Linked DNA regions of Homo sapiens. The protein of the gene in region 1 purifies or fractionates together with the protein of each later gene. This does not show direct contact. Each region holds a gene or a part of one and is shown in the gene's direction. Other genes may lie near its edges. The genes, in order: PSG9, SHCBP1, CELSR3, ZMYM1, ZBTB44 and CCDC85C.

Region 1 (5,473 bases):
GCATCATGACATCCAGGGACACCAGCAGGGTGTGGTACTGTGCCCTGGAGTCAGAATCCTGGGTTCTGGTCCCTGGGAGTGAGAAAATGAAAATGACTTGTCCTTGCCCCCCTGACGTTGATCTTCCCACCCTGCTGCTCCCTCTTCTGCTCTCAAACCCATGTGCAGTGCTCAGCCCCAGGCATCACTGCCCCCAGGGTATTCACAGTGTTGCCTACTGCACACAAACACAAACTCACAGAAGGTGACAAAAATCTGCGTTTGGGACATCTGATTGTGAAAGAGGGATAACAGTGAACGTAGAGCCACAGAGACTGGGACTCACGGGGCTGGAAGGTGAAGGAGCTGTAACATAACATATGTGTGACCTCGTGTGAAGTGGAATAAAACATGCAGCCTGGCCTGGGATTGCTGCCGTTCACACTTCCCTCCCTGTCCACCAGAGGGCGACAGAGTCCCTCCCAGCCTGGAGCCTTCCCAGGGGATGCCAACCTCCCTCAGCGGAACCCACAGCCCAGCAGGGTCCACCCTCACCAGGGTCACTTCGGCCCAAGTCCTCAGCACCCTCCATGCTCCCCACACGGACTCTGTCAGTTCCTCCCTGACCTGGCGGCCGCCAACCTAACACCACTCCCTCTGCAGGGAGCTCCTGCCCCACACACCTGCTCCTTCCCTGGGCCCAGCTAAAGGCATCTCCCAGGGCAGCGCTGGTGCACGCGACGCCACACTGGGCGCTTTCCCCTCGTGAACTCTCTCCATCCTCATCAACTCTTTCTGTCACTGCTCCCTAAATGCCTGCCCCTGCTCCATCTGTCCTGTTCTCTGGGGCTTCCCAGGCCAAGCCTAGCGCCGACACAGAACAGCGGCTGCCTGAGGGCCCACAGCCTCCCCGGGAATCAGCCAGGCACCCTGTCACCTGCCTGCCCCCTGCACCCCAGGGGGCTCAGAGAGCGTGTGATGGTCATTCACAGGTACCATCCGGGATGTGGCCACCTACCCCCAGCTGTCCCTTGGGAAGACAGACCTCTCCTGTGTACTTGCGTGGAGAAGGGCGGTGTTATTGCTCTTTGCTCCCAGAACACAACTCACCCCCACCCGCCCTCTCAGGTGTGAGCAACGTCCCTCCAGAGAGCCTCTCTGGTCACTGCCTGTTCCTCCTCTACAGACAGCAGCTTGGCCAGGTCAAAACCCTCAGGACAGACCCCTGGGTGTGTCAGCACATGGAGGGCTGAGCCCATCATGGCCACGGAGTAAGTCGGGATGAATCTCTCCAGCTCTGAACCCCTGCTCTGTCCCAGGCTCCCCCTCCTGCGTCTCAATGAGCCATGTCCCGCGGGGTTCCTGGGTAACTCCCCACTTCCTCCTGCACCACCACGGGGAAGGTGTGGTGACCACAGGACAATCAGCTGGGCAGAGAAGAGAGGACATCAAAGATGGTCAGGGAGAACATGAGAAACCCTGAGCTCCAGCTCAGCCGCCAGACCCCAGGGAGCCATAGACTGACAGAGAACTGTCCCTTTGACTATGGGACTCACAGCCCCCACTGAGCAACCAGCACAGGCCTCTCCTCCTAAGAGGCATGAGAGATTCACCCTGCACACCTCCAGGAAGGACAGTTTCCTCTGGGACACCCAGGTCCTGAAAGTCCATCCTTGGAAGCTGCAGTCAAGCTTGACACGATTAGAGAAAGGAAGGGTCCCTCTCACCAGGCAACACACAGCTCACCCACAGCACAATGGGGTGTCACTGTGACAGGGACCTGGTGCATCTCCAGCCTCCTGCACTGAAGGGGAGAGCCAGATGGGGATGAAAGAGGGTAAAAGGCATGAATGTGCACCCCAACCCAGAGCCATGGGGACAGCAGGAGGCTGAGGCCCAGGACTGTGCTTGCCCAACCTGCAGGGTATGTGCCTGACTGTGTGGGTCTGTGTGTGTCTCTTCTGTGTGTGTGTGTGTGTGTGTGTGTGTGTGTGTGTGTCTGCACAAAGTGTGTGTTGAGGTTTGGTGAAAGAATCACTGCTGAAAAAGGCAGAGGCCTCCACAACTCCCAGGGACCTGAAACACAGACAAAAGGAAAAACAGAAGGAGGGACAAGGAGGCAGGACTGAGAGAGAAGGGGACAGAGAGGTGTCCTGGGACTGACCCCGCCCATGAGCTTGAGAAGTGCTCCTGCCCCGGGAAGAGGCTCAGCACAGAAGGAGGAAGGACAGCACAGCTGACAGCCGTGCTCAGACAGCTTCTGGATCCCAGGCTCATCTCCACAGAGGAGAACACACAGGCAGCAGAGACCATGGGGCCCCTCCCAGCCCCTTCCTGCACACAGCGCATCACCTGGAAGGGGCTCCTGCTCACAGGTGAGGAGAGAACTTCCTGGGAGAGGACAGGGGGAGGAAGCGGAGTGACTGGATGGGGTCTCCTGGAGAGGATGGGGTTGTAAAATAAAAGAAGCCAGCTCTTAGGGAGGCTGAGGTGGGTGGATCACGAGATCAGGAGTTCAAGATCAGTCCGGCCAATGCAGTGAAGCCCAGTCTCTCCTAAAAATATAAAAAATTAACCAGGTATGGTGGTGTACTCCTGTAATCCTAGCTACTCGGGAGGCTGAGGTGGGAGAATCATGTGAACCCGGGAGGCAGAAGTTGCAGCTAGCCGAGATACCGCCACTGCACGCCAGCCTGGGCGACAGTACGAGACTCCGTCTCAAAAAAAAAAGAAAAAAAGGAAAGAAGGCTCTGTTGCAGCCTGGATAGGGGAAAATACACCAGAGAGGGACAGGGGTCAAAAGAGGAAAGTCACATTGAACCGGAATTGGTAAGAGGTAGGAAAATCTTAAGTGTTCTGTTTTCCTGATTAATCATCCGGGGCCACCACATTTTGAAAAATGATAATAATAACTATATCAGATGACACTTCAAATAAAAATATAAGCAGGACATGAAACACTATCCTCAGCAAAAAACCTCAACAATTGGGGGAAAAAAAAACACCCAGGGCATGGAGGGCCCTGAGAACTCTCACATCTACAGGAGTCTGCAGCCTGTCCCAGGCACTGGGGTGCAACCAGGATCACAAAAGTCCCTGTCCTCACGGAGCTCACGCTGTCATGGGGAGGAAGACAGACATGCGAAGAGATGTAGAATGTGAGATCAGGTGTTGACAAGAACCCTGGAGGGAGCAGAGCAGGGAAAGGTCAGAAAGGGAAGACCCAGGGTCTCTGAAGGAGGTGTCAGGAAAGAAGTCTAAGGATGCCCTGATGTGAGCAGGACCTGAGGGCAGTGTGGAGGGGGCCGTGTGGACCCCTGGGGAAGAGGATTCCAAACAGAAAAATGCCAAGGTCAGAAGTGTTGAAGGAATGGGGGTCATGCTGCTGACCTTGACCTAGTAGGACAGTAGGACACACACACATACACATACACAAACACACATGCCCGTTTTTTGTGTGTGTTTGTTTGTATGTGTGCGTGTGTGTATCTTCAAGGCTGAGGATGGAAGAGACCTTCTCAGGACCCAGGGCCCCATCTTTTCACCACAATACATAGGTCTCAATATTAACTGATGCTGTCTCCCCCTCCTAGCATCACTTTTAAACTTCTGGAACCCGCCCACCACTGCCGAAGTCACGATTGAAGCCCAGCCACCCAAAGTTTCTGAGGGGAAGGATGTTCTTCTACTTGTCCACAATTTGCCCCAGAATCTTCCTGGCTACTTCTGGTACAAAGGGGAAATGACGGACCTCTACCATTACATTATATCGTATATAGTTGATGGTAAAATAATTATATATGGGCCTGCATACAGTGGAAGAGAAACAGTATATTCCAACGCATCCCTGCTGATCCAGAATGTCACCCGGAAGGATGCAGGAACCTACACCTTACACATCATAAAGCGAGGTGATGAGACTAGAGAAGAAATTCGACATTTCACCTTCACCTTATACTGTGAGTGATTCCACATGATCCCTGGGTGTTGGGGGGAAGGGGTCATTTCTACTTCACACACACAGGATTGTCAGGCCTGGACTCTGCCTGTGTCACTCTCTGCATTATGTCCCATGCTGGGGTTTGGGCATTTAGTGCAGGACACACACAGAGGAGACAAATTTCAACAGATCAGAATTCCTTTCCCGCATCCAGACCCTGCAGACACTCGCTGCAGAGGAAGGACAGTCTGATGGGGGGACTCAGCAGGAGGAGATCAGTCTCAGCCAAGCACATCATGCCCTCTTCATAAATTTGACCCTGAGAAAGACCCTGGAGAACTGAGTAGGGCTTGGCTTGAGGGGACCCCTGAGATACTCTCAGAGAAGCTCAGCCCTAGAAGCCTCAACCCCAGACCCCTGTCCCTAAATCCTTGCTCCAGTTAAGCTGAGGAGCCTGTGCCAGTGCTGGGTTGTGGCTTCTTGGGCAGGCCTTACTGGGACCAAGAATTTACCAGCTGTCTGAGGACTGTGTCTCCTGGAGCTGTTCACCAGCCAGGGCTCAGCCCTCAGAGTCTCATCTGGGCAAGGACAGAGCTTTTTCAGCTGACACTCAGAGTGGAGAGGACAGAAAGACAAGCTTTGTAGGACATCAGCCAACTGCCTTGGGAGGCTTAGGACAGTCCATAGAAAGTCTAATGTCCCCAGAAGCAGAAACAGAAGGGAGAAGATGTACCTGGTAGCAGCTTGTCCACAGGGATCTGACATAAGGTGCTTTCTCATGGAAGCAAATTAATAATAAATGCTGCTTGTGTGAAACCTCCACTGTGCCAAGCATTAGGTCAGGTGACTGTGAATCATTTAACATTTATTCACAGATAGCATGAAAAGCCACAGTCCATTTGCCATTTAGTTTATTTGATTGAGAGAAAACTGAGGCACAGGAAGGTGCAGTCACTGAACCAGAGTCACACAAACACAAAGGGGAGATCAGGGTCACATGAGGTCTGTCTGCAGCCACAGGCCTATCCTCTCCTCCACCAGAAGTGAGGGCTTACTGGGTTCCAAGGACCCCATAGTCATTTATTGGCTCAAATCCTCTCTTCTTAGGCATCCAAACCTCAGAGGAGTGAGAGCAAATGGTCAGCTGATTAGTCTGTATTCCAGAACTAAATCACCTGCCTCAACCATCAGAGTCAGTGCAAAAAATATGTCCAGGCCTCCCCCTCAGATCTTAACCCCCATCACTGAACGTGAAATCCTGTGTTTCCCAAAGTGTCCATGTCACTGTCATGAGAGGATCAAGGAGAGGACCTTGTTTTCTTTCCCCACTCACACCCTACACCAGCACAGGCCCAGCGAGAGACACACACTCAGGAGCTCTCACATAATGAATGAAGAACTTGAATGAAGAAATGAATGATCCAAAACCTCTTTAGAGACTGAATTTGCATGCAGAATCCTAGGAGGTTCTAGCCACACCTGTCCCTTGTCCTTCAGAGGCTGACACCCACGTTTCATCCCCCCACTACCTCTTGCCCCTAAAGCCACCCCACC
Region 2 (4,761 bases), on another chromosome or scaffold:
TCTCGAGTAGCTGGGATTACAGGTGTGCACCACCATGTCCTGCTAATTTTTGTATTTTTAGTAGAGATGAGGTTTCACTATGTTGGCCAGGTCAGTCTCGAACTCTTGACCTCAGGTGATCCACCTGCCTTGGCCTCCCAAAGTGCTGGGATTACAGGTGTGACCCACCGTGCACCTGGTCTAAAAATGTTTTAAATCATTTTATGATAATTTCAAACTTATAGAAAAGCTGACAAAACTAGTATAGTTGACTCTTGAATGATGTGGGGGTTAGGGGTGCCTATCTCCCCCCACCCCTACATAGTCAAAAATCTGAGTATAACATTTGACTCCCCCAAAACTTAACTACTAATAACTTACTGTTGACCAGAAAAGAAGCCTTACCATTAACATAAATAGTTGATTAGGACATATTTTCTATGTTATGTGTATTATCTTATAATAAAGTGCTAGAAAAAAGGAAATGTTAAGAAATTCATAAGGAAGAGAAAATGTATTTACTACTCATTAAGTGGAAGTGGATCATCATAAAGGTCTTTATCCTCATCATCTTCACCAGAGGAGGAAGAGGAAGAAGAGGGATTGGTCTTGCTGCCTCAGGGGCGGCAGAGGCAAAACAGGTGGAGGAGAGGTGGAAAGGGAGGCAGGAGATGCTGGCACACTCAGTGTAAATTATCAGTGGACCCCACAAAATTCAGACCTGTGTTCTTCAAGGGTCAAGTGTATAAAGAATTCCTGTTTATCTTTTACTTGGTTTTCACAAATGTTAACAAAAGTAGGGGATTCTTAATTGGGTTTGTATATATTTATAAACTGACTTAAAAGTTGTGGATGTTAAGGCTTATGGTCGGTATATTTCAATACAAGAGTACAGAAAGTAGAAGAAGAGAAAGACAGTGAAGAAGGTTATATACTATGGTGTGTGTACTGCTAAAAGACGAATACACATTTTTTTCAAGCATATGTCTGGTCAAAGCAAGTGTTTTCTTAGGCTGCTTCTAGGATCCTTAGGGGATGTATTCCTGCCTGTGAGTCTTTTTTGCCATAGTTATTTCCACTGCACAAGTGGACCCCTTGTCCCTTCCTTGGGAAAGAAAGCCCATACCTGGATCAGTGGGTATGATTTCAACAATTTTTCAGATCAATCTTTTATTGGATAGTTCCTGATATAGATAGTTATTTTGTATCTTCGCCAAAGAAGGCTTACTTGTAGCTATTTAAAAATAGACCCATATTCCTTCAGGAACTAGAAGACTGAGCAATATATAATGACCATAATGTAAATAACATTGCTTGGTGTTTTGTAGTATAAAAAGTACTTTCTATTTTCTATACCATTAGTGAGTTAACGTGGTTTTGCTGAGCTTAACTCGAATGCTCTGCAAAGAAGCAGAGTGTTTCAGGCCCTGCTGCCAACATCTTACGGACAGTTTCTAATTGTATGCAAGAACATTTAACCCTAGATGTTCAGTATTGGGCCAAGCAGAATGAATCTAAAGAACCGGTTTCTGTCCAGAACCAAAATAACTCCCTTCTATTTTTCTCATTAAAAAAAATCTGTCAATTGAAGCATTTGAAGATAAAGTGATAACTGATAAGTTTAGGAAATTAGGAATCAGGGAGCTAATCTCTATGGGCATAGAAGTTCGTGGAAAAATAAGTATCTGGAATGTTATTTGGTAGTATTATTTGAGGAGGAGCCTGGTTAAATTTACACTTCATTTGGAGGGCTGAGATTTGGATCAGTGCCCAGTGAAGGTCAAATTATGAGGGATTTCATTTGTTCGTTGATTCAATGAATATTTGAGTGCCAGGTCCTTAGTCAAGGATGGGGTATGTCTGGTGCATGAGACACACCATCATCAGGGAGCTGTCAGTCTAAAGGTGGGAGATGAGCCTTGATGAAATAATCACGCACAGATGTCTGCATGATTGGAAATAGCAGTGAGTGCTGTGATGAATTACAGAGTGTCCTAAAATTAGGTCAAGTTGCTGTTCTAGGGTTATTTACTGGAATAATGACATTTGAACTTGGGTTAGCTGTGTGAAAGGGGAGGCAGGGGTGGGGAAGGGAAAAGATTTGGGAGCTCAGTGTGTTTAAGGAGCTGAAAGGCCAGCATGGCTGGAACACAGACAGTGCTGAGAGAGACCTAGGAAATGAGATTAGAGAGGCTGGCAGGGGCCAGACAGTGCGGGGATTTGTTAGCTGGTTAGTCATTTTTGTCTTTAAGAGCAGTGGGAAGCCACTGAAGGATTTTTATTCTTGGGTGAATATGACTAGTTTTGTGTTTTGTGTTTTTGTTTTTTTGGAAACACGGTATTATTCTGTTGCCTAGGCTGGAGTACAGTGGTGCAATCATGTGATTCAATGCAGGCTCGAACTGTGGGGCTCAAGGCATCCTCTTGCCTCAGCCTCTGGATCAGCTGGGATTATAGGCATGTGCCACCACTAGCCAGCTAGTTTTTTAACAACATTTTTCTGTAGAGATGGGGGTCTCGTTGTGTTGCCCAAGCTGGTCTCGAACTCCTGGGCTCAAGCAGTCCTCCCACCTCAGTCCCCTAAAGTGCTGCTTTGTGTTTTCAGGGGTTCATTGTGGCTTCTGTGTAGAAAACAAATGGTGGGAGATGGAATTGGTAGACCAGTTAAGACGCAAGAGAGAGGACTAGAGTGGGGATATAGAGAGGACGGATGGAGGCTTACTGAGAAAGTACAATGGCTGGACTTGGTGGTCGAGTGGATATCAGAGATGAGAAGATGTAAGTGAGGTGAGAGAAGTCAAGGCTGACTTCCACATTTCTGGCTTGAAAGAATCAACACTGCGGGAGGTACAGAAGGGAATGATGTGTAAATGCTTGGCATGGTACTGGTGAGGATGATATTGGAGCCGAGTCATGGAATAGAACTATAAGCTTACCAGGTGGAAAAGGTGGAAGGCACTTCTGGCAGCTTGACTAACAAGTTACATGGAGGTTTGAAAGAGCTTGTGAAATTGAGAGTTTAGGTACAACGGCTCTGAGGCAGGAGAGGCGCAATAGGGCCAGATTATGAATCTATTTATAGTACCACGTTCAGGACTTCTTTTTGAGGGCTAAAAGGGAGCCAGCAGAGGTTTTTTCAATCGAGTAGAGGCATGCTTAAGTTCATTACAACAACAACAACAACAACAACAAAAGACTCCACTAGAGGGTGAAGGGACTAACAGCCCAATCTACAATAATTAGGAGATGGCTGGTTTCATTTTCAGTGCTTCCTTTTCACAGCAGAACTTCTTGAAAGAGTTATATATAATCACAGTCTATACTTCCTGGTGTCTCAGTAACTCTTCTACCCTGACCTCATCTCTGAAATTATGCTCAAAGACTTCCATGTTCTTGTATTCAGTCAACGTTTCACTGATCTCATCCTGCCTCTGATCTCATCTTGCTTAACGTCTTGACATTCTAGGTATTTGATCATTCCCATCTTCTTCACACCCTCTCCTCTCAGCTTCTGGGACACCACTGTTCAGCTGGTGTCTTACTGGCTTGCTTTCTCAGTCATCTTGGCCAGCTTTTCCTCTCATGCTCAAACTTTAGAATGTCAGAGTTACCCAGGGATCAGTCCTAGGCCATCTACTGTTTTTTCCCTAATCAACCTTGGAACCACTTTGGAATCACCTGAGGAATTTCTTTATAAAAGTATTCCAACCAATACATGAAGAAAGTGATAGAATATCAGTATTTTGTAACCACTAATGAAATAAAGGTTCTAGACAGTGAACATCGATGACTGCTGCAACCATTAGGGAAAGAGAACTTTATAGAGGGTGGATCAGGTTGACAACCTGTATCTGTTGATCAATCTGAACCTCACAAAAAGACATGGCCAGGCATTGTAATAAAGTCCTCAGTTACTGTTGTTGGTAGGTTCTTAGAAACTGTGATGTTAATGAAACCAATTTTACCATAGGCTGACTGATATAAACAAAAGTTAAAGTTTCTACAGCATATTTCTGGTCATGAAAACATCATCAAACTTCTAAATAAAGACCCCAAACAATTCTAATCTTAAACATTGAAATAAATGTGAACTATATATACATTAAGAAATATTAATGCAAACAAGATAATTATTGACCCAATTTCCAATTTTTGGTGAAACAGTGAGTGACAGTGGTCATTGTGGTGACGAGTAAATCAAGGAATAAATGTTTGCAAAGCGGAAATTATAAGGAGCACCTCCTGCCATCACCCACTTCAAAACAATGACAAACATAGTGGGCTCACTGAGCGATTTCATGCCACAGCATTCATTGTTGTGCATTTGTATGATTATTGTATACTTTATGAATTTTTGTTTGACAGTAATTTGTATTCATTCACTTTCCAACCTGCTTATTCCAGTTCAGGGTTGCAGGTGGCCAAAGCCTATTCCCGTAGTTCAGGGTGCAAGGCAGGAACCAGCTGTGGACAGGAGCCCATTTCATCACAGAGTGCACTCACACACCCACACTCAGACTGGGACAAGGTAGACACAGAATTCACCTCATGTGCGCATCTTTGGGATGTGGGAGGAAATCAGAGTACCTGGAGAAAACCCATGCGGACATGGGAAAAATGTACATACTCCACACAGACAGTGGCTTTGGCCAGGAATGAGGCTCTGCTCTTCCTGCTTCTTGACTGAAGTACATTACACCTCCCTTGAAGTATTCTTGCAAAAAATCCTTCCTGAAGGCCTGCAGGTCTGTAGATCTTACTGTCAGTTTACTAGAAATAACA
Region 3 (5,403 bases), on another chromosome or scaffold:
TTGGGACTCCAACACCCTTCCCCGGCAGAGCCCCTGCCTGTCTGCCTCCGTGGTGTCAGGTTTTGTGCCCTCTACTCACTAGATTGTGGACACAGAAAGCGCTGGTGCTGTCAAAACCACTTCTGGGTTGCCGGGCGCGGTGGCTCACACCTATAATCCCAGCACTTTGGGAGGCCAAGATGGGCGGATTGCTTGAGCCCAGGAGTTCAAGACTAATCTGGCCTACATGGTGAGACCCTGTCTCTATAAAAAATGCAAAAATTAGCCAAGTGTGATGACATGTACCCGTAGTCCCAGCTACTCGGGAGGCTGAGGTGAGAGAATCGCCTGGGGAGTTCGAGGCTACGGTGAGCTGTGATCACCACTGCACTCCGAAAGAGTGAGACCTTGTCTCTAAATAGATAAATAAAACTACTTTGGGGGACTCGCTCCTCCAGCCCCTGCACCGATTGGCTCCCATTCAAAGGAGTTCAGCCCTAAGTGCCTCTGCAGATCTTCCACCCCCACTCACAAACCCGTAGGAACCCCGGCCGTGTATCAGGCCCAGAGCTCTGATCCTGGGGAGGTCCTCAGATTCGTAGACAGGAGAGGGAACAACTGGACACCTGTTGCCTGACCTTGGTAGCCACAAGGGGCGCTCGGGAGGTGGAACCCGCAGAAGCCCCGCCTCCCGGAAGCGGAGCAGTCAAGGGGCGAAAGGATGCGCCGACTGATTGGTTGATGGTGATGTCATAGGGACCGTTCGGGGCGGGCCAGAGGCCTTGGCCAGGAGTTCCTCGCCTGTTAGAACCAGGATCCACCCCATCGCGGGAGCCGCACCCTGTGGAGCGTTCTGGGGTCCCGGCCCTGACCTCTTCCTGGGCTTCGGGATGCCCGCGTCCTCTGCACCCGGCGCTGCAGCTCGTTATCGATTCCGCCTTTGGAGGCCGGTCCGTATAGTGTACCTCCCGGACTCTCTCACGGTTAGCCGGCAACCCGCGGAGCCCCCTCCCCCATGCGATGAGTCCGCCGTGAGGGGCGGGGCCTCCCATTGTGCCAATAGAAACAATGACTGACCGATTGGAGTGCTCCGCGTTCACCCCTCGCCTCCGCTCCTCTCGTGACGTCTGTTGCGCCAGGTCCACCCATTGGCCTGGCGAGACCGGCGCGTGCCAGGAGTTACGCAGGGAGAGCTGGAATGCACCGAGGGTGGGGGGAGGACTGAGTTTCTGTGTCAGTCCCTTCAAGGGGTTAAGGCATGCGGTCGTGACGGACGAGGGGCGGGGACCCGAAGAAGCGGGGCCCGCAGCCATGGGGCAACGCCGGGCTCCACGTGGCATCCCAGAGCACTCGGGACTCGCAGCCTGGGAGGGGGTGCAGCCTCCAGTGAAGGGGCCCCGAGCCCGGGAGACTGCTGGGGACCAGCAAGGCAGGGAAGAATTTGGCCTCTGCTCCCGCCTCGGGAGGGTCATCTCTGGTCCCTGCTCCGCAGGGGCGATCCAAACAAGCAGGTGGTCGCGACATGTTTCATAAAACTAGCTGATGGGATAGTTAAAGCTATTGTTCGGGGTGCTGGCACCCCAGACCCCTCTCCAGCCATCGTCCCCTCTACCCCAGGATTTCACACAGTACCCCCTCCCAGAGCTATGAGAACGCTCATGGGCACCAAAATTTCAGACCAAAATCCGGGACACGGTTCAGAACTAGTGGTCAGGAAGGGGGAACAAGAGATCTGGAAGGACAGAAAAAGGCTGGGAGACGGAGCTGGGACAGCGCCCTAGAAGGAGGGAGGTGGGTGAAGGCGGCGACCGAAAGTGGGGAGGGCGGACCCAACGACGGCGAACCTTCGCGCTCTGTTCAGCACCAGGAGCAACGCTCACGTCCTCAATAAAGATGGCGGCAACATCTTCGGTCCTCAGAGCTGCCATGCGCGATGGGTTGTACCACCGTGTTTCGGGCGCCGGGGCAGAGGTGGAGCGAACCATCGGGGCGGCCGGGAGCCATGTTGGAGCGGCGGGAGGCGGCAGCAGCGTCGGGGATGCTGTGGTGGGGGCGGAAAAAGCCAGGGCCGCACGCCGGAGGGGCTCCGGCCGCGGAGTAGATGGTGCCCAGAGGGCGGCGGGGGTGCGGAGAGACAGGCGGAGGGGCGGGGGCCCGGGGCGGCGGCAGGGGCCCGGGAGGGGGCCCGAGCGGCGGGGCCAGCCCAAGGCCCGGACCGGGGCGGGGGGCGGTGGAGGCCGTGCAGGGAGGCGGGGGATGATGGCGAGGCGGCCGCCGTGGCGGGGCCTCGGGGGACGGTCGACCCCCATACTCCTGCTCCTTCTCCTCTCTTTGTTCCCCCTCAGCCAGGAGGAGCTGGGGGGCGGTGGGCACCAGGGCTGGGACCCAGGCTTAGCTGCCACTACGGGGCCAAGGGCGCATATCGGTGGCGGAGCCTTAGCTCTTTGTCCGGAGTCTTCCGGGGTCCGGGAGGATGGGGGGCCTGGCCTGGGGGTCAGGGAGCCTATCTTCGTGGGGCTCCGAGGGAGAAGGCAAAGCGCCCGGAATAGTCGAGGGCCCCCTGAGCAGCCGAATGAGGAGCTGGGGATTGAACACGGCGTCCAGCCATTGGGCAGCCGCGAACGAGAGACAGGACAGGGACCAGGGTCTGTGTTATACTGGCGCCCAGAGGTCTCCTCTTGCGGGCGGACAGGACCTTTGCAAAGAGGTAGTCTGTCACCAGGGGCTCTGTCCTCAGGGGTCCCGGGCTCGGGGAACAGCTCGCCCCTCCCTTCAGACTTTTTGATTCGGCACCACGGTCCCAAGCCGGTGTCCTCCCAGCGGAACGCTGGGACAGGCTCCCGCAAAAGAGTGGGCACCGCGCGCTGCTGTGGGGAATTATGGGCAACAGGGAGCAAGGGTCAGGGCGAGAGAGCCACGACATCCGGAGCAGAAAGGACAGCCCCCCGGCGGAACTGTCTTCCAGGGGCCTCGGGATCTGGCCCCGAGCTGGATTCAGCACCACGCACGGCGAGGACAGCTCCTGCATCAGGTTCAGCACCCCGCGAGTCTCGGACAGCTCCCGAGCCGGCGCCCAAGCGCATGCGCTCCCGGGGTCTCTTCCGCTGCCGCTTCCTCCCGCAGCGCCCCGGGCCGCGTCCCCCGGGACTCCCGGCCCGTCCTGAAGCCAGGAAAGTAACCTCGGCGAACCGGGCACGCTTTCGTCGCGCCGCAAACCGCCACCCGCAGTTTCCGCAGTACAACTACCAGACGCTGGTGCCGGAGAATGAGGCAGCAGGCACCGCGGTGCTACGCGTGGTTGCTCAGGACCCGGACGCCGGCGAGGCCGGGCGCCTAGTCTACTCGCTGGCGGCACTCATGAACAGCCGCTCGCTGGAGCTGTTCAGCATCGACCCGCAGAGCGGCCTTATCCGTACGGCGGCAGCTCTGGACCGCGAGAGCATGGAGCGTCACTACCTGCGTGTGACCGCGCAGGACCACGGGTCGCCGCGCCTCTCGGCCACCACGATGGTGGCCGTGACAGTAGCCGACCGCAACGACCACTCGCCGGTTTTTGAGCAAGCGCAGTACCGGGAGACCCTTCGCGAGAATGTGGAGGAGGGCTACCCTATCCTGCAGCTGCGTGCCACTGACGGCGACGCGCCCCCCAACGCCAACCTGCGCTACCGCTTCGTGGGGCCGCCAGCTGCGCGCGCTGCAGCTGCCGCCGCCTTCGAGATTGATCCACGCTCCGGCCTCATCAGCACCAGCGGCCGAGTGGACCGCGAGCACATGGAAAGCTATGAGCTGGTGGTGGAAGCCAGCGACCAGGGCCAGGAACCCGGGCCGCGCTCGGCCACTGTGCGCGTACACATAACTGTGCTAGACGAGAACGACAATGCTCCTCAGTTCAGCGAGAAGCGCTACGTGGCGCAGGTGCGCGAGGATGTGCGCCCCCACACAGTCGTGCTGCGCGTCACGGCCACTGACCGGGACAAGGACGCCAACGGATTGGTGCACTACAACATCATCAGTGGCAATAGCCGTGGACACTTTGCCATCGACAGCCTCACTGGCGAGATCCAGGTGGTGGCACCTCTGGACTTCGAGGCAGAGAGAGAGTATGCCTTGCGCATCAGGGCGCAGGATGCTGGCCGGCCACCGCTGTCCAACAACACGGGCCTGGCCAGCATCCAGGTGGTGGACATCAATGACCACATTCCTATTTTTGTCAGCACGCCCTTCCAAGTTTCTGTCTTGGAAAATGCTCCCTTGGGTCACTCAGTCATCCACATTCAGGCAGTCGATGCAGACCATGGGGAGAATGCCAGATTGGAGTACTCCCTAACTGGTGTGGCACCTGATACTCCTTTTGTGATAAACAGCGCCACTGGCTGGGTCTCTGTGAGTGGTCCCCTGGACCGTGAGTCTGTGGAGCATTACTTCTTTGGTGTGGAGGCTCGAGACCATGGCTCACCCCCACTCTCTGCCTCAGCCAGTGTCACCGTGACTGTGCTGGACGTTAATGACAATCGGCCTGAGTTCACAATGAAGGAGTACCACCTACGACTGAATGAGGATGCAGCTGTGGGCACCAGTGTGGTCAGCGTGACCGCAGTAGACCGTGATGCCAACAGTGCCATCAGCTACCAGATCACAGGCGGCAACACCCGGAATCGCTTTGCCATCAGCACCCAGGGGGGTGTGGGTCTGGTGACTCTGGCTCTGCCACTGGACTACAAGCAGGAACGCTACTTCAAGCTGGTACTAACTGCATCTGACCGTGCCCTTCATGATCACTGCTATGTGCACATCAACATCACAGATGCCAACACTCATCGGCCGGTCTTTCAAAGTGCCCACTACTCAGTGAGTGTGAATGAAGATCGGCCAATGGGTAGCACCATAGTGGTCATCAGTGCCTCTGATGATGACGTGGGTGAGAATGCTCGTATCACCTATCTCCTGGAGGACAACCTGCCCCAGTTCCGCATTGATGCAGACTCAGGAGCCATTACATTACAGGCCCCATTAGACTATGAGGACCAGGTGACCTACACCCTGGCTATCACAGCTCGGGACAATGGCATCCCACAGAAGGCAGACACTACTTATGTGGAGGTGATGGTCAATGACGTGAATGACAATGCTCCACAATTTGTGGCCTCCCACTATACAGGGCTGGTCTCTGAGGATGCCCCACCTTTCACCAGTGTCCTGCAGATCTCAGCCACTGACCGGGATGCTCATGCCAATGGCCGGGTCCAGTACACTTTCCAGAATGGTGAAGATGGGGATGGAGATTTTACCATTGAGCCCACCTCTGGAATTGTCCGTACAGTAAGGCGGCTAGACCGGGAGGCAGTATCAGTGTATGAGTTGACTGCCTACGCAGTGGACAGAGGTGTGCCCCCACTCCGGACTCCAGTCAGTATCCAGGTGATG
Region 4 (4,761 bases), on another chromosome or scaffold:
TACAATTCATTGACCAGACTTGACCACAATTTATCATTTTCTGTTGAATGACTGGTTGTCTTAAATTCATTGTATTCACTATTTTTAATTATTATTTTTTTTTTCTTTTTAGGAGTATTGTCATAGGCAACAGTCCAGAACTCAGGAGAATGAACTGAAAATAAATGCTGTGTTTTCAGAGAGTGGTAATAGAATTATTTAAGTTAGTTATGTTTATTCAGACCAATACGACAGCTGATTCATTCTTTTTTAATGCCTTTGAATATTGCTTTGTTTGTGTTGGGTTTTAAGTCCAGGAGAAGTAACCTGTAAGAAAATGAAAGAGAGGCCGTGCACAGTGGCTCACACCTGTAATCCCAGCACTTTGGGAGGCCGAGGCAGGCGGATCATGAGGTCAGGAATTCGAGACCAGTTTGGCCAACATAGTGAAACCCTGTCTCTACTACAAATACAAAATTAGCCAGGCGTGGTGGCGCATGCCTGTAATCCCAGCTACTCAGGAGGCTGAGGCAGGAGATTTGCTTGAACCTGGGAGGCAGAGGTTGTGGTGAGCCAAGATTGCACCACTGCACTCCAGCCTGGGCAACAGAGCGAGACTCTGTCTAAAAAAAAAAAAAAAGAGAAGAAAATCAAAGAGGCTGGGCATGGTGCCTCATGCCTGTAATCCCAACATTTTGGGAGGCCAAGGTGGAAGGATCAGCTTGAGGGCAGGAGTTTGAGACCAGCCTGGGCAACATAGCGAGATCCTGTCTCTACAGAAAATTTAAAAACCAGGTGTGGTGGTGCATGCCTATAGTCCCAGCTACTTGGGAGGCTGAGGCGGGAGGTTTTTTTTTTTTTTCTGAGATGGAGTTTCCGCTCTTGTTGCCCAGGCTGGAGTGCAATGGCACGATCTTGGCTCACTGCAACCTCTGCCACCCAGGTTCAAGCAGTGCTCCTGCCTCAGCCTCCCAAGTAACTAGGATCACAGGCCCGTGCCACCACACCCAGATAATTTTGTTTGTTTTGAGACGGAGTCTCGCTCTCGCTCTGTTGCCAGGCTGGAGGGCAGTGCATGATCTCGCCTCACTGCAGCCTCCACCTCTCAGGTTCAAGCGATTCTCCTGCCTCAGCCTCCCGAGTAGCTGGGACTACAGGCATGTGTCACCATGCCCAGCTAATTTTTATAGTAGAGACGGGGTTTCACCATATTGCCCGGGATGGTCTCAATCTCTTAAACTCGTGATCCACCCACCTTGCCTCCCAAAATGCTGGGATTACAGGCGTTAGCCACCACACCTGGCTAATTTTGTATTTTTAATTGAGATGGGGTTTCACCATGTTGGCCAAGCTGGTCTTGAACTCTGACCTCAGGTGATCCACCTGCCTTGGCCTCCCAAAGTGCTGGGATTACAGGCGTGAGCCACCGCACCAGGTGGTGAGAGGGTCACTTGAGTACAGGGTGTCAAGGCTGCAGTGAGCCATGATCGTATCACTACACTGCCTAGAGTGCAAAAGAGGGCAACAGAACAAGACCCTGTCTCTAAAAAAAGAAAGAAAGAAAATAAAGGAATGCCTACTTAATTTTGTGTAAATAACAATTTTTTTTTCTCCCTCTTGTGTTTTTATAGCTTCACAGTTGACTGCAGGCATTCAGCTTTCTCTGGCATCATCTGGCGTGAATAAAATGCTTCCTTCAGTTTCAACCACAGCTATTCAGGTTTCCTGTGCTGGTTGTAAAAAAATTCTCCAGAAGGGGCAAACTGCTTATCAGAGGAAAGGATCTGCTCAACTTTTCTGCTCCATACCATGCATCACTGAATACATTTCATCTGCCAGTTCACCAGTTCCTTCTAAGAGAACTTGTTCAAACTGCTCAAAGTATATAATTCTAAATTATGCCCCCTTTTATTTCCCTACCTTGTTCTTGATCATAGTCTTAGTTGTAATTTCTACATTTTCTTTTTTTATTTTTTGAGACTGAGTTTGACTCTTGTTGCCCAGGCTGGAGTGCAGTGGCACGATCTCGGCTCACTGCAACTTCCACCTCCTGGGTTCAAGCGATTCTCCTGCCTCAGCCTCCCAAGTAGCTGGGATTACAGCCATGCACCACCACGCCCGGCTAATTTTGTATTTTTTAGTAGAGATGGGGTTTCGTTCGCCATGTTGGCCACGCTGGTCTTGAACTCCTGACCTCAGGTGATCCGCTTGCCTTGGCCTCCCAAAGTGCTGGGATTACAGGTGTGAGTCACTGCGCCCGGCCATTTTCATTTCTTTTGAAGACGTGTCGTCTTGGTTTAGTAAAAAGAAGTTTTTTCTACTTTTAGTTCCTCTGATGGATTCTGTAGAAATATTTTTTTTTGCAGAAATTAATGTGAAAAGTACTGTTTCTCTTCACCTTTACTCTTTTCATTTGAAATTCTCTGTAAATGGGATTATTGTTTATCCATTCTGTTCTATTTAACTGTATAGGGAGCAACCTACTAAAAAATTAATCCTATGACAGTTAGTTTGGATTTTCCAAGATGTGGAATAATATTATATTTCTTTTATAATGGTAAATGAAGTGATTCTTTTGAAAAATTGATGGCCATAGATAAACCTACATGTCTCTATGTAATCTTTTAAAAATTTATGTGAGAATGTGTGAAGAATCAGTGTCATTTTGGCTTTGAGAGTCCTAAGGCTGTATAATTATGGTTGTTAGCACTTAGGATATGCTAATTTTTAAATGTTCTTGTTCAGAACAAGAAAATCCATAGGCAACCACAGTGCTTCTAAATATAACAAATTTCTTTCAAATAATACTTGTTTTGGACTCAGGTTGCCATAATTTGAATTTTGCTTCTTCTGTTTAGTTATATTTTACTACTCAAAGTTTCATCCCTGAGTTGCTAGATCAGCATCACCCAAGAGTTTGTTAGAAATGCACTTTCTCAGGCTGGGAGCAGTGGCTCACGCCTGTTATCCTAGCACTTAGGGAGGCCGAGGTGGGCAGAATGCCTGAGCTCAGGAGTTTGAGACCAGCCTGGCAACACAGTGAAACCCTGTCTCTACTAAAATACAAAAAAATTAGCTGAGCACTGTGGCATGCACCTGTAATCCCAGCTACTTGGGAGGCTGAAGCAGGACAATTGCTTGAACCCGGGAGGCTAAAGTTGCAGTAAGCTGAGATCAGGCCACTGCACTGACTGTCTCAAAAAGAAAAAAAAAGAAATGCACTTTCTCAGGTCTTACCCAGACCTGCTGATTCAGAACTGCATTTATCGCCATGTGATTCCTATACATGCTAAAGTTGGAGCAGTATTGAGAACTTCTTTGTTACTTAGTATTCGTATCTGTTTTTGATAAATGTACAAAAGAATTATGAGCATTAAATAGTATATTTAAGTGGTCAGAACAATACCAGCATGTAGTAAGAACTCAATAAATGTTAACTATTATTATTCTCTTAACAAACTCACAAACCCTTTTGATGGGTTTGCTTCAGCTCCTCTGGCTGCTGCTTCAGTTATTATCTGTTGCTTCAGGTCTTATTCCATGGCACGTTACTTACCATTCTCTTTTGCTTTTCAACCCTTCAATACTATACTAGTCTTTTGTCTTTTTACTTTTTTGCTATGGGCCATATAGTACTCTCTTCAGCCTGCTTTCTCTCCCTGCAGAGTCATAAAACTGGAAGGGACCTTAGAGACTCACTACACATCTTCAGCAGATGTCCCAGACAGATTGAAAAAGGCTGAAGCAGGAAAGATTTAGTGTGTAAGTTCTCCTAGGCATGGAAATCCAATATGAGTAAAAATCTGAGATAAGTTTTACTTCCTCTAGAATAAAATTTTTTTATAAAAAATATTATATTGTAGTGGGTAGAAAGATGGTAGTAAATTTTAGGCTGGAAAAGGCCATCCATGATTCAGAGTAGGCTGCTTTTTTCAAAACTTAAAAATTCCACATTAATTAGCCTTTTACATAAATTTTAGCTATTCTTCTGGGGTTTTTTTATCTTCCAGTGAAACTATCCTGAACTGAAAATAATTTTCAGTTACTTATTTATTTATTTTTGCAGAGACAGAGTCACTATGTTTCCCAGGCTGATCTTAAACTCCTGAGTTCAAGTGATCCTCCTGCCTTGGTCTCCCAAAGTGCCGGGATTACAGGTGTGAGCCACCGTGCTGATTTTCAGTTTTGTTTGTTTGTTTGTTTTGTTTTGTTTTGTCTGAGACGGAGTCTCGTCTCAATCTGTCACCCAGGCCAGAGTGCAATGGTGCAATCTTGGCTTACTGCAACCTCCACCTCCTGGGTTCAAGCAATTCTCCTGCCTCAGCCTCCCAAGTAGCTGGGATTACAGGCGTGTGCCACTGTGCCCAGCTAGTTTTTTTATTTTCAGTAGAGATGCAGTTTCGCCATGTTGGCCAGGCTGGTCTCGAACTCCGGACCTCAGGTGATCTGCTTTCCTCGGCCTCCCAAAGTGCTGGGATTATAGGTATGAGCCACCACGCCCTGCCTGATTTTTAGTTACTTTTTAAGATTTCTTTTATAGGAATGATTTAATATCTGTTTTGAGTCAATGCACTTTTTATTCTATTTCATGGACCAAATGGAAGATCCCTTTGAAGATGACATTTTAAATCTTATTAGAAAGATGCGATTTGTGGGCCAAGCGAGGTGGTTCACACCTGTAATCCCAGCACTTTGGGAGGCCAAGGCAGGAGAATCACTGGAGGTCAGGAGTTCGAGACCAGTCTAGCCAACACCACAAATCCCTGTCTCTACTAAAAATAT
Region 5 (4,761 bases), on another chromosome or scaffold:
TGTTACATAGGTATACACATGCCATGGTGGTTTGCTGCACCCATCAACCCTTCATCTGCGTTACGTATTTATCCTAATGCTATCTCTCCCCTAGCCCCCCATCCCCCAACAGGCCCCACTGTGTGATGTCCCCCTCCCTGTGTACATGGGTTCTCATTGTTTAACTCCCACTTATTAGTAAGAACATGTGGTGTTTGGTTTTCTGTTCTTGTGATAGTTTGCGGAGAATGATGGTTTCCAGCTTCATCCATGTCCCTGCAAAGGACATGAACTCATTCTTTTTTATGGCTGCATAGTATTTCATGGTGTACATGTGCCACATTTTCTTTATCCAATCTATTATTGACAGGGATTTGGGTTGGTTCCAAGTCTTTGCTATTGTGAATAGTGCCGCAGTAAACATATGTGCGCATGTGTCTTTATAGTAGAAAGATTTATAATCCTTTGGGTGTATACCCAGTAATGGGATGGCTGGGTCGAATGGTATTTCTGTTTCTAGATTCATGAGGAATCGCCACACTGTCTTCCACAATGGTTGAACTAGTTTACAGTCCCACCAACAGTGTAAAAGCATTTCCTATTTCTCCACATCCTCAACAGCATCTGTTGTTTCCAGACTTTTTAATGATCACCATTCTAACTGGTGTGAGATGGTATCTCATTAAATTTCCATATGAAATTTAAAGGAGTTTTTTCCAATTCCGTGAAGAAAGTCAATGGTAACTTGATGGGGATAGCACTGAATCTATAAATTACTTTGGGCAATATGGCCATTTTCACGATATTGATTCTTCCTATCCATGAGCATGGAATGTCTTCCCATTTATTTGTGTCCTCTCTTATTTTCTTGAGCAGTGGTTTGTAGTTCTTGAAGAGGTCTTTCACATCCCTTGTAAGTTATATTCCTAGGTATTTTATTCTCTTTGTAGTAATTGTGAATGGGAGTTCACTCGTGATTTGGCTCTCTGTTACTGGTGCACAGGAATGCTTGTGATTTTTTATCACAAAGTGTTCAGGAATAAAAGTCCAGGGCTGGTACAGTGAATCTGCAATATAATCAGTGGCCTAGGCAACTTGTATATTTATAAACTGCCATCTTTACTTTGTTGGTTTCATCCATAAGATGCTCATTTCATCTTCAGCTTTGTATTCTAGAAAGGGGCAATGCTTTGTATCAAGAAAGCACCTATGTTCTCAGAAATCCCTAAAAAACTTCTGCTAGTCTGTGTCACATAGTCTTTCCTAGCTGCAAGGGAATCTGGGAAGATAATGTATATTAGTTGGGTACCTAAATGCCTTGAACAAAATTAGAGCAAAATGGATATTGAGTATGCAACTAGCAGTGTCTGCCACAAGTAGGCCAAGTAAGCTTGGATTTTATCTTAGTGGTAGGTAGTAAGGAGTCTACATTAAAGGGATAAAAACAAAAACATGCAGATATTTTAGGAAAACTGTTATTGACATGCAGTGAGTTTGGTTTTACAGAGACAGTCTCAGAGACCAATTGCAGTGCACTTATCTTGGTGTGAATGAAGACTTAAAACCATGTGAAAGAAAATAGATATTACAAGACTTTGTAAAGAAAGACTTAGTACCTGATGATACTGAATATGTATATTGAAAGAACAGGAGAGGTTAAAGTACTCTGATGACTAGGAAATAATGGTAACACTTTATTATATTCCATTGATTCTAAGTCACAATTTTTCATATTTTGTTATTTCTGAATCCAGATATGTCTTACAGTTGGCAGTCTTCTACAGTTGCTTTTTTCTTCCTTAGTGCTATAGAGAATAATGGCAATCATATGAATCAATAGCATTTTAGCATCTATTAAATGTAGTTAGTGCCGTATGAAAATCAGTGGAAGGTGGTGGGAATCCAGTTTTGAGAGTAAATTATCAAGGTCACTTCTGTGTAAATTGTGCTTGGATGATGATCAAGCAGTGTCATTTCAAAAGCAGTAGAAAAGATAAGTGAGATTCCCAACTTGGGACTTTTCTACTAGTAGTGGCAAATTCAATCTCAATAGGAAAAACAGAAGAGCCAAAACCAAGGGGATACCTTGGGGAATACCTATATTCAGGTTTGGGAAGGGATAGAAGAAAAGCCACTAGTGAATAATAAAGATTTGTCCAAAATATTGGAGAACCGGGAAGACCATATTAACTTTGTTAGTTTCTTGTGCTTTTACCCTCTGTGTGAGTTTCCCTGGGCTGCTGCAACAAAGTACCGCAAACTGAATGGTTTAAAAAAAATTTATTCTCTCATAGTCAGAGGCCAGAAATCTGAACGACAGGTGTTAGTTCCCTTTGAAGGATCTTTCTCTCTTTGAAGATTGTAGGGAAGAATCCTTCCTTGTCTCTTCCAGCCTGTGGCAGCTGCCCACAATCCTTGGTGTTCTTTGGCTTGTAGCTCCAGTATATGATATTGTGCTTTAGTATATGCGTTCGTCTTCACATGACCTTCCCTGTCTCTCTGTTTTGCCACTGGCTTCAAATCTCTCTCTCCCTAAAAGGACACCAGTCATTGGATTCAGGTCCCACCCTAATCCAGCATGACCTCATCTTAACTTGATTACATCTGCTAAGACCCTATTTCCAAATAAGGTCACATACATTGGTAGCAAGGATTAAGATGTACTTTTTCTTTTTTTTTTTTTTTTTTTTTAAGATCTGGGATGCATGTGCTGAACATGCAAGTTGTGTTTTTGGGTATTTTATTTTCTTTGTAGCAATTATGAATGGAAGTTCACTCATGATTTGGCTCTCTGCTTGTCTATTACTGGTGTATAGGAACGCTTGTGATTTTTGCACATTGATTTTGTATCCCGAGACTTTGCTGAAGTTGTTTATCAGCTTGAGTTTTGGGGCAGAGACAGTGGGGTTTTCTAAATATACAATTATGTCATCTGCAAACAGAGACAATTTGACCTTCTCTCTTCTTATTTGAATACCCTTGACTTCCTCTCTTCCTATTTGAATACTCTTTCTTTCTCTTGCCTGATTGCTCTGGCCAGAACTTCCAGTACTGTGTTGAATAGGGGTGGTGAGAGAGAGCATCCTTGTCTTGTGCCGGTTTTCAAAGGGAATGCTTTCTGCTTTTACTCATTCGGTATGATACTGTCTATGGATTTGTCATAAATAGCTCTTAATATTTTGAGATATGTTCCATCAATACCTAGTTTATTCAGAGTTTTTAGCATGAAGGGGTGTTGAATTTTTATTTTTAATTTTTATTTATTTATTTATTTTTGAGACGGAGTCTCACTCTGTCACCAGGCTGGAGTGCAGTGGTGTGATCTCAGCTCATTCAAGCAATTCTTCTGCCTCAGCCTCCTGAGTAGCTGGGACTACAGACGCATGCCACCACACCCAGCTAATTTTTGTATTTTTAGTAGAGATGGGATTTCACCATGTTGGCCAGGATGGTCTCGATCTCTTGACCTCGTGATCCGCCTGCCTCGGCGTCCCAAAATGCTGGGATTACAGGCGTGAGCCACCACGCCCAGCCAGGGTGTTGAATTTTATTGAAGGCCTTTTCTGCGTCTATTGAGATAATCGTGGTTTTTGTCATTGGTTCTGTTTTACGTGATGGATTACGTTTATTGATCTGCGTGTGTTGAACCAGCCTTGCGTTCCAGGGATGAAGCCAACTCGATCCTGGTGGATAAGCTTTTTGATATTCTGCTGGATTCAGTTTGTCAGTATTTTATTGAGGACTTTCACATCAATGTTCATCAGGTATATTGGCCTGGTATTTTCTTTTTTTGTGTTGTGCCTCTGCCAGGTTTTGGAATCAGGATGTTGCTGACCTCATAAAATGAGTTAGGGAGGAGTCCCTCTTTTTCTGTTGTTAGGAATGGTACCAGCTTCTCTTCGTACCTTTGGTAGAATTCAGCTGTGAATCTGTCTGGTGAATCTGTCTGGTGCTGGGCTTTTTTTGGTTGGTAGGCTATTTCAGGAGAGTTTATAGCATGAAGGGGTGTTTTTTTTTTTTTTTTTTTTTTTGAGGTTTTGCCTCAACTTTAGAATTTGTTATTGGTCTATTCAGGGATTCAGCTTCTTCCTAGTTTAGTCTTGGGAGGGTGTATATGTCCAGGAATTTTCGTCTAGATTTTCTAGTTTATTTGCGAAGAGGTGTTTATAGTATTCCCTGATGGTAGTTTGTATTTCTGTGGGATCAATAATGACATCCCTTTTATCATTTTTTATTGTGTCTATTTGATTATTCTCTCTCTTCTTTATTAATCTGGTTAGCAGTCTGTCTATTTTGTTAATCTTTTCAAAACACCACCTCCTGGATTCATTAGTTTTTTGAAGGGCTTTTCGTGTGTCTCTTTCGGTTCTGCTCTGTTCTTAGTTATTTCTTGTCTTCTGCTAGCTTTTGAATTTGTTTGCTCTTGCTTCTCTAGTTCTTTTAATTGTGATGTTAAGGTATAGATTTTACATCTTTCCCACTTTCTGATGTGAGCATTTAGTGCTATAAATTTCCCTCTCAACTGTGCTTTAGCATGTCCCGGAGATTCTGGTACCTTGTCTCTTTGTTCTCATTGGTTTCAGAGAACTTCGTTATTTCTGCCTTAATTTCGTTATTTACCCAGTGGTCATGCAGGAGCAGGTTGTTTAGTTTCCATGTAGTTGTGCAGTTTTGAATGAGTTTCTTTTATTATTATATTATTATTTACTATACTTTAAGTTCTAGGGAACATGTGCACAACGTGCAGATTTGTTACATATGTATACATGTGCCATGTTGGTG
Region 6 (4,761 bases), on another chromosome or scaffold:
TAGGTGGTTTAATTTGCTGGGGCTGTTCAGAGCACCTCAGCCCCTTTGATTTTGCCGTCCTGGGGGCTTTTGAGGGGTCAGTTATCTGGGCCTCGGTTTCCCTAAGTGCAGTCCAAAGAGCAGATTGCTGCAGTCTCGTGGCTGGAAAGTGAAATGTTTCTGGTTTTCAGCTGCGTCATCAATGACACTTGGCAAGAGTGCCTCTCTGCAGGACACTGGAGGGCTGGAGTGTTTAGAGCATACTTGCAGGAAAGGCTCTGTCGAGTTTTGGGCAAGGAGATGCGGCCCCAGTCTGGCTCAGCATGTCAGCTGCGACAGTGAATAATACAGGAGTGGAGGACTAGGCTACACTGAGTTTTCCACCCCACTGGGGGTCAGTGGGAGGTTGAAGTATAGGGTTTCCCACAGAACCCATCCTCCCCCAAGCCCACTTAGCACAGGACTGCTGCAAATGTTGTGGCAGCAAACCTTGCTTTGGGGTGAAATGAAAATTCAGCATTATTATTACAAATTTCGGTTACAGATGGAATTATTATTATTTAGTTTTGTCTCTTAAAGCCATGTGTGGCCTTGGGATGTGGTCCCACTAATGTAAATGGAAGGCTTGGAAACCAGGAAAGGCCCTTCTCTTAGAAACTGAGCTGTTCTTTCTTTCTTTTTTCCCTTTTTTCGAGACAGGGTGTCACTCTGTCACCCAGGCTAGAGTGCAATGGAACACTCATGGCTCACTACAGCCTCAACCTCCCAGGCTTAAGTGATCCTCCCAGCTCAGCCTCCCAAGTAGCTGTGATTAGAGCCATGAGCCACCTCACCTGGTGAAACTGGGCTTTTCTATTCTGGGACTTGTAACTTTAAATTGAGCAAAGATTGGGCCTGAGCTGAGGGAGATAATGAGTCTCTGTCTGGGTGGTGTCTAAAGTGGGGTCAGACACCAGGCTTGCGCCTTATGTGTTTGGTCTTTGCTTCTTCTCACAGGAACCCTGGGGAAGCAGTATTATCCCCATTTGACAGACAAGCAAGTGGAGGCTTAGAGGGGTTCCTAGCCTTGTCTGGGAAGGTGGCTGACATTGGAAGTACCTGTCCTGGGTGGGTTTGCTGCCATGATCATCTCGTGTTCAGGCCTTGGGTCTGAATCTGTTGTGCCCTTGGTCTGTTGTCATGTTTGCTGTTACTGTTAATCAGGGGACACTGGTGACTCCCTATTCTTGATTCCTGACCCAGGTTTGCCCTCTTTCTCCCATGCTGGGAAGTGTCACTTCCTTATCAGTGACCATTGAGCAGATGGCTGATAACCCCGTTACCCAGAGGCTCAGGGTGACTTGAGTTTGAATCTCAGCTCCTCCATGTATACTGGGCAAGTTATTAACTGGCCAAGCCTCTCTGTGCTCCTCTTCTGTAAGATGGACAGAACCCAGAGTGCCCCATTATTCACACAAGGTTGAGTGAGGTCAGGATCTACACACAGTAGGTTTCTCCTGTTGTTAGGGTCCTTGGGGCTCTCCCAACAGACCTCAGTTTCCTCTTCAAAAGTGCTTGCTGCTTAGACAGCTCACCTGAATGTTTGCATCTGAGCCTCTTGTGTGGCAGCACTTGCTGATGAGCTAGTGAGGACAGTGGCCCTGCTGTCCTTTCTGGGGAGCTGGTGGCAGTTGCAGCCCTGCTGGGTGCCCTGGGCAGACTCTAGTGGCTGAGGTGGGAGGTGGCCCATCTGTATGCAAGGCAGCCCTGGCTGAGGCTGGCCTGGTGGGCCTGTGTATTGTGTATGTACATGCAAATAGGCTTTTCTCCTTGGCTGCTTATTTATTTATTTATTATTTATTTAGAGACAGGGTCTCTCTGGTCACCCAGGCTAGAGTGCAATGGCACCATCATGGCTCGCGGCAACCTCAACCTCCTGGGCTCAAGTAATCCTCTTGCCTCGGCCTCCTGGGATGTGTGCTACCATGCCCAGATAATTTTTGAATTTTTTGTAGAGACTGGATCTCACTATGTTGCCCAGGCTGGTCTCGAACACCTGGGTTCAAGCAGTCCTCCTGCCTTGGCCTCCCAAAGTGTTGGGATTACAGACGTGAGCCACTGCACCTGGCCTTGGCTGCCTTTGGTAGAGGTCTGGTCTGGGCTGACTGGACTTGGGACTGGGCTGTGCGTTGCTCTAGTCCAGTGTGGCACACTGAGACAGGTAAACCCCAACACCAGAAAGTCAGGTTCTCCTTCATGAACTGATAGGATTTTCAAACAAAAGAATTTTCAGTTCTTTTTCCAGCTGCCCCTCCGCCTGTCTCCTGTGCCCCACGACAGGCACCATGCCCCCCTCCTGCCCATTGCCAGGCATTTCCTTCCCTCCCCTGATAACCTGCTCCTCCACGGTCCACTCCCCTTTAGCCAACCTGGAGGAACTAGGATTCTAGCAAGCCTGTGCATGAGCCCCATTTACTTTTTAAAGTTCGGATTAAAATTTTGAGCTTCTCAAAATGAGACAGGTTTGTTCTCCTGCTTGTGTTTTTGTTGGTTTAAGAGGGAGGATGGAACGGGGTGGTCTGGGCCTTTAGAAAAAGACAGAGCACGCTAACTCTGAATAGGTCTTTTCTGTGCAGCAGCTCGGCTAATAAGGCTGCTTTTCCTAAACCCAGCCAAGCTCAGGAACAAAGGTCAGTGAAGACAATGGGGTGGGTTAGATAAGCCTTTCCCCCTCCTTCCCCAGCCTGTCCCAAGGGATCCATCAATGGCCTTGGGATGCTGGGCCTCAGAAAGGAGGGCTGGCCTTGAGAGGCTCCCAGGCAGGTGACCCAGGGGTGGGTAAACTGTGCCCAGTGCTTCACAGTTTGCCACAAACAGCATCCCAGTCCCAATTCCATTCTGTTCAGAGCTTCCAAATGGTCCCAGGAGGGAGACCTTAGCATCTCCATATCTTAGATGGGGAAATCAGGGCTTGGAGTGGTGGTGCGGTGACTTGCTCTAGGTCCTGTGGGGCTGATTGGGGGGCCTGGGATGCGTCTTGGGTCTCCTGTGTCAGAATTCTGAGCCCATGGCCCTGTGCCTGCTGCCCAGAGAGTTCCAGGGGAGCGGTGACCTCTGCCACAGAGACAGGGCACCTCCTCCCAGGATGCCAGGCCCGGGGCCTCATTCCTGTCTCCCTGTGTCCTGGCATGGAGGAGTGGGGGAAGGCGGTGCAGGGTGGGCCACCTTCCCTACGATGGCTGTGGCTCCCCATCTCTTGGTTTCTCCTTCCCTCACTTCTCTGCACGAGGCTGGCTTGCCACCGCAGCAGTCGCCCCACCAGACCTCTTGCTCAGGCCTGGCCTCTGAGTTCCCAGGACCAGCACGTGATACAGAAGGAAATCAGTGGTTGCTCCTAATCTGTTTTCCGCCGGTGGGGATTTTCCAATCCATGCTTGTTGCCTTCATTTGCGCAGAGAATTGGAAGTCTGTTAAGCAAGTTCCTGAGCCTCCATGGGCCTCTGTTTTCTCTTTTGCCAAGTGGGAAAATGTTACTAACCTTTGGGTTGAGGGAGGAGGGTGTGTAGTGAGTGATACGTGTAGCCTCTGGCGGGTGGCAGCCCCTGATGTGCGAAGGCCCCATCTCCCGCTGCAGCGCTCGGCACCCCGCATGCCGAGGGGCATGTAGCCCTCTGGTTAGTGATCTGCCTCCAGGGTCAGAGAGCCCTGGGTGAATCTTGGCTTTGCCACCTGCTTTATGGCCGTGGCAGCTTACTGAACCTCTAAGCCTCAGTTTCTTCATCTATATCCTGAGGCTAATAATGTCTCGATCCTAGAACTGGGCCTTAAAGGATGGGTTCCATGTCCTTTCATTATTTCCTGGCCTCTGCGGATTTGCCTTCCCTGGGTGGGAGTGGGAGATCCCCTGACACACGCTGGTACCCAGTGTAGGGTCGGAGGCAGCTGAGTCCTCATCTAGTTGAATGGAGGGAGCCAGCATTCCAGGCAGGAATAAGAATGGCTAAGGTTTGGAAGTGGGGTCTGGAGCATGGCATTGAGAATCCGGGGCCTGCAAGGTGGACCCAGGATGTGTGTGGGGAGATAACTCTTAGGGGGGTTAGTGCTGTGGGCAGCCCCACAGGGCAGACCCCAAAGTCCCAGCTTTTCAGACTTCAGTGCCCACAAGCAAGAGTGGCCCAGGTGGCCTGTGTTGCCTCCAGGGCTGGGGAGCGCTGTGTCAGGGGAGGTTGCGTGGACACTGAGAAGGGGCATTCCTGAATCCACTGAGGATGGGGCTTGTGGACACCCCAGACAGCTCTGGGAATCTGGTTGAGATGTGGGTTCTAAGACACGCCCCACATTACAACTGGGAAGGGAAAATGCCCAGCTTTGAATGTGTGTGTTCAATCCAATCTGGTTGAACCCAGAGCCAGGTGGGAAGCGGGACTTGACCTCACAGGTGGTAATTTGCTCTTCAGGAGGAAGGGAAGCGTCTGCGGACTTCACTGAGCATTTACTGCCTCTGAGGTCTGAGTGCCTCCTGAGCAGTGATTCTTGGAGTCTGGCTTGGGGGGTGGTGGTTCTGGAGCATCACTCTGGTGACCACTGTGGTGTGGGCTGGGCTGGGGGAGCAGTGGGTGGAAGCTGAGGGCTTCCATCGGGAGGAGGTTCTGGCCAGGAGAGTGGCCACAGGAGAGAGCCTTCTGTAGGTTCCAGACCTGGTGAGTCTGCTCCAAAGTCCTGCTCTCAGCTGCTATCTGCCTTCTCATGACCTCTGTCCTCTAGGGCAGGCGTCCTGAGCTCTTGGGTGGGGCTCAGGCAGGA

Evidence for each region.
Region 2: the proteins of PSG9 (region 1) and SHCBP1 purify together in Homo sapiens (affinity purification with mass spectrometry; 3 studies listed by BioGRID and IntAct, with this or other methods). This does not show direct contact.
Region 3: the proteins of PSG9 (region 1) and CELSR3 purify together in Homo sapiens (affinity purification with mass spectrometry; 3 studies listed by BioGRID and IntAct, with this or other methods). This does not show direct contact.
Region 4: the proteins of PSG9 (region 1) and ZMYM1 purify together in Homo sapiens (affinity purification with mass spectrometry; 3 studies listed by BioGRID and IntAct, with this or other methods). This does not show direct contact.
Region 5: the proteins of PSG9 (region 1) and ZBTB44 purify together in Homo sapiens (affinity purification with mass spectrometry; 3 studies listed by BioGRID and IntAct, with this or other methods). This does not show direct contact.
Region 6: the proteins of PSG9 (region 1) and CCDC85C purify together in Homo sapiens (affinity purification with mass spectrometry; 3 studies listed by BioGRID and IntAct, with this or other methods). This does not show direct contact.

What each region holds. Positions count from the first base shown.
Region 1 is NC_000019.10:43,266,249-43,271,721, reverse strand, and holds the start of PSG9 (pregnancy-specific beta-1-glycoprotein 9 isoform 1 precursor), read left to right. Parts: upstream 1-2,191; 5' UTR 2,192-2,290; coding exon 2,291-2,354; intron 2,355-3,572; coding exon 3,573-3,938; intron 3,939-5,473. UniProt on the Homo sapiens protein: Binds to the small latent transforming growth factor-beta complex, consisting of the N-terminal TGFB1 latency-associated peptide (LAP) and the mature form of TGFB1, thereby leading to the activation of TGFB1.
Region 2 is NC_000016.10:46,610,876-46,615,636, reverse strand, and holds part of SHCBP1 (SHC SH2 domain-binding protein 1), read left to right. Parts: intron 1-4,761. UniProt on the Homo sapiens protein: May play a role in signaling pathways governing cellular proliferation, cell growth and differentiation. May be a component of a novel signaling pathway downstream of Shc. Acts as a positive regulator of FGF signaling in neural progenitor cells.
Region 3 is NC_000003.12:48,659,467-48,664,869, reverse strand, and holds the start of CELSR3 (cadherin EGF LAG seven-pass G-type receptor 3 precursor), read left to right. Parts: upstream 1-1,983; 5' UTR 1,984-2,235; coding exon 2,236-5,403. UniProt on the Homo sapiens protein: Receptor that may have an important role in cell/cell signaling during nervous system formation.
Region 4 is NC_000001.11:35,095,707-35,100,467, forward strand, and holds part of ZMYM1 (zinc finger MYM-type protein 1), read left to right. Parts: intron 1-112; coding exon 113-185; intron 186-1,610; coding exon 1,611-1,860; exon of another isoform or gene 1,861-3,741; intron 3,742-4,114; exon of another isoform or gene 4,115-4,136; intron 4,137-4,761.
Region 5 is NC_000011.10:130,255,148-130,259,908, reverse strand, and holds part of ZBTB44 (zinc finger and BTB domain-containing protein 44), read left to right. Parts: intron 1-4,761. UniProt on the Homo sapiens protein: May be involved in transcriptional regulation.
Region 6 is NC_000014.9:99,596,935-99,601,695, reverse strand, and holds part of CCDC85C (coiled-coil domain-containing protein 85C), read left to right. Parts: intron 1-4,761. UniProt on the Homo sapiens protein: May play a role in cell-cell adhesion and epithelium development through its interaction with proteins of the beta-catenin family. May play an important role in cortical development, especially in the maintenance of radial glia.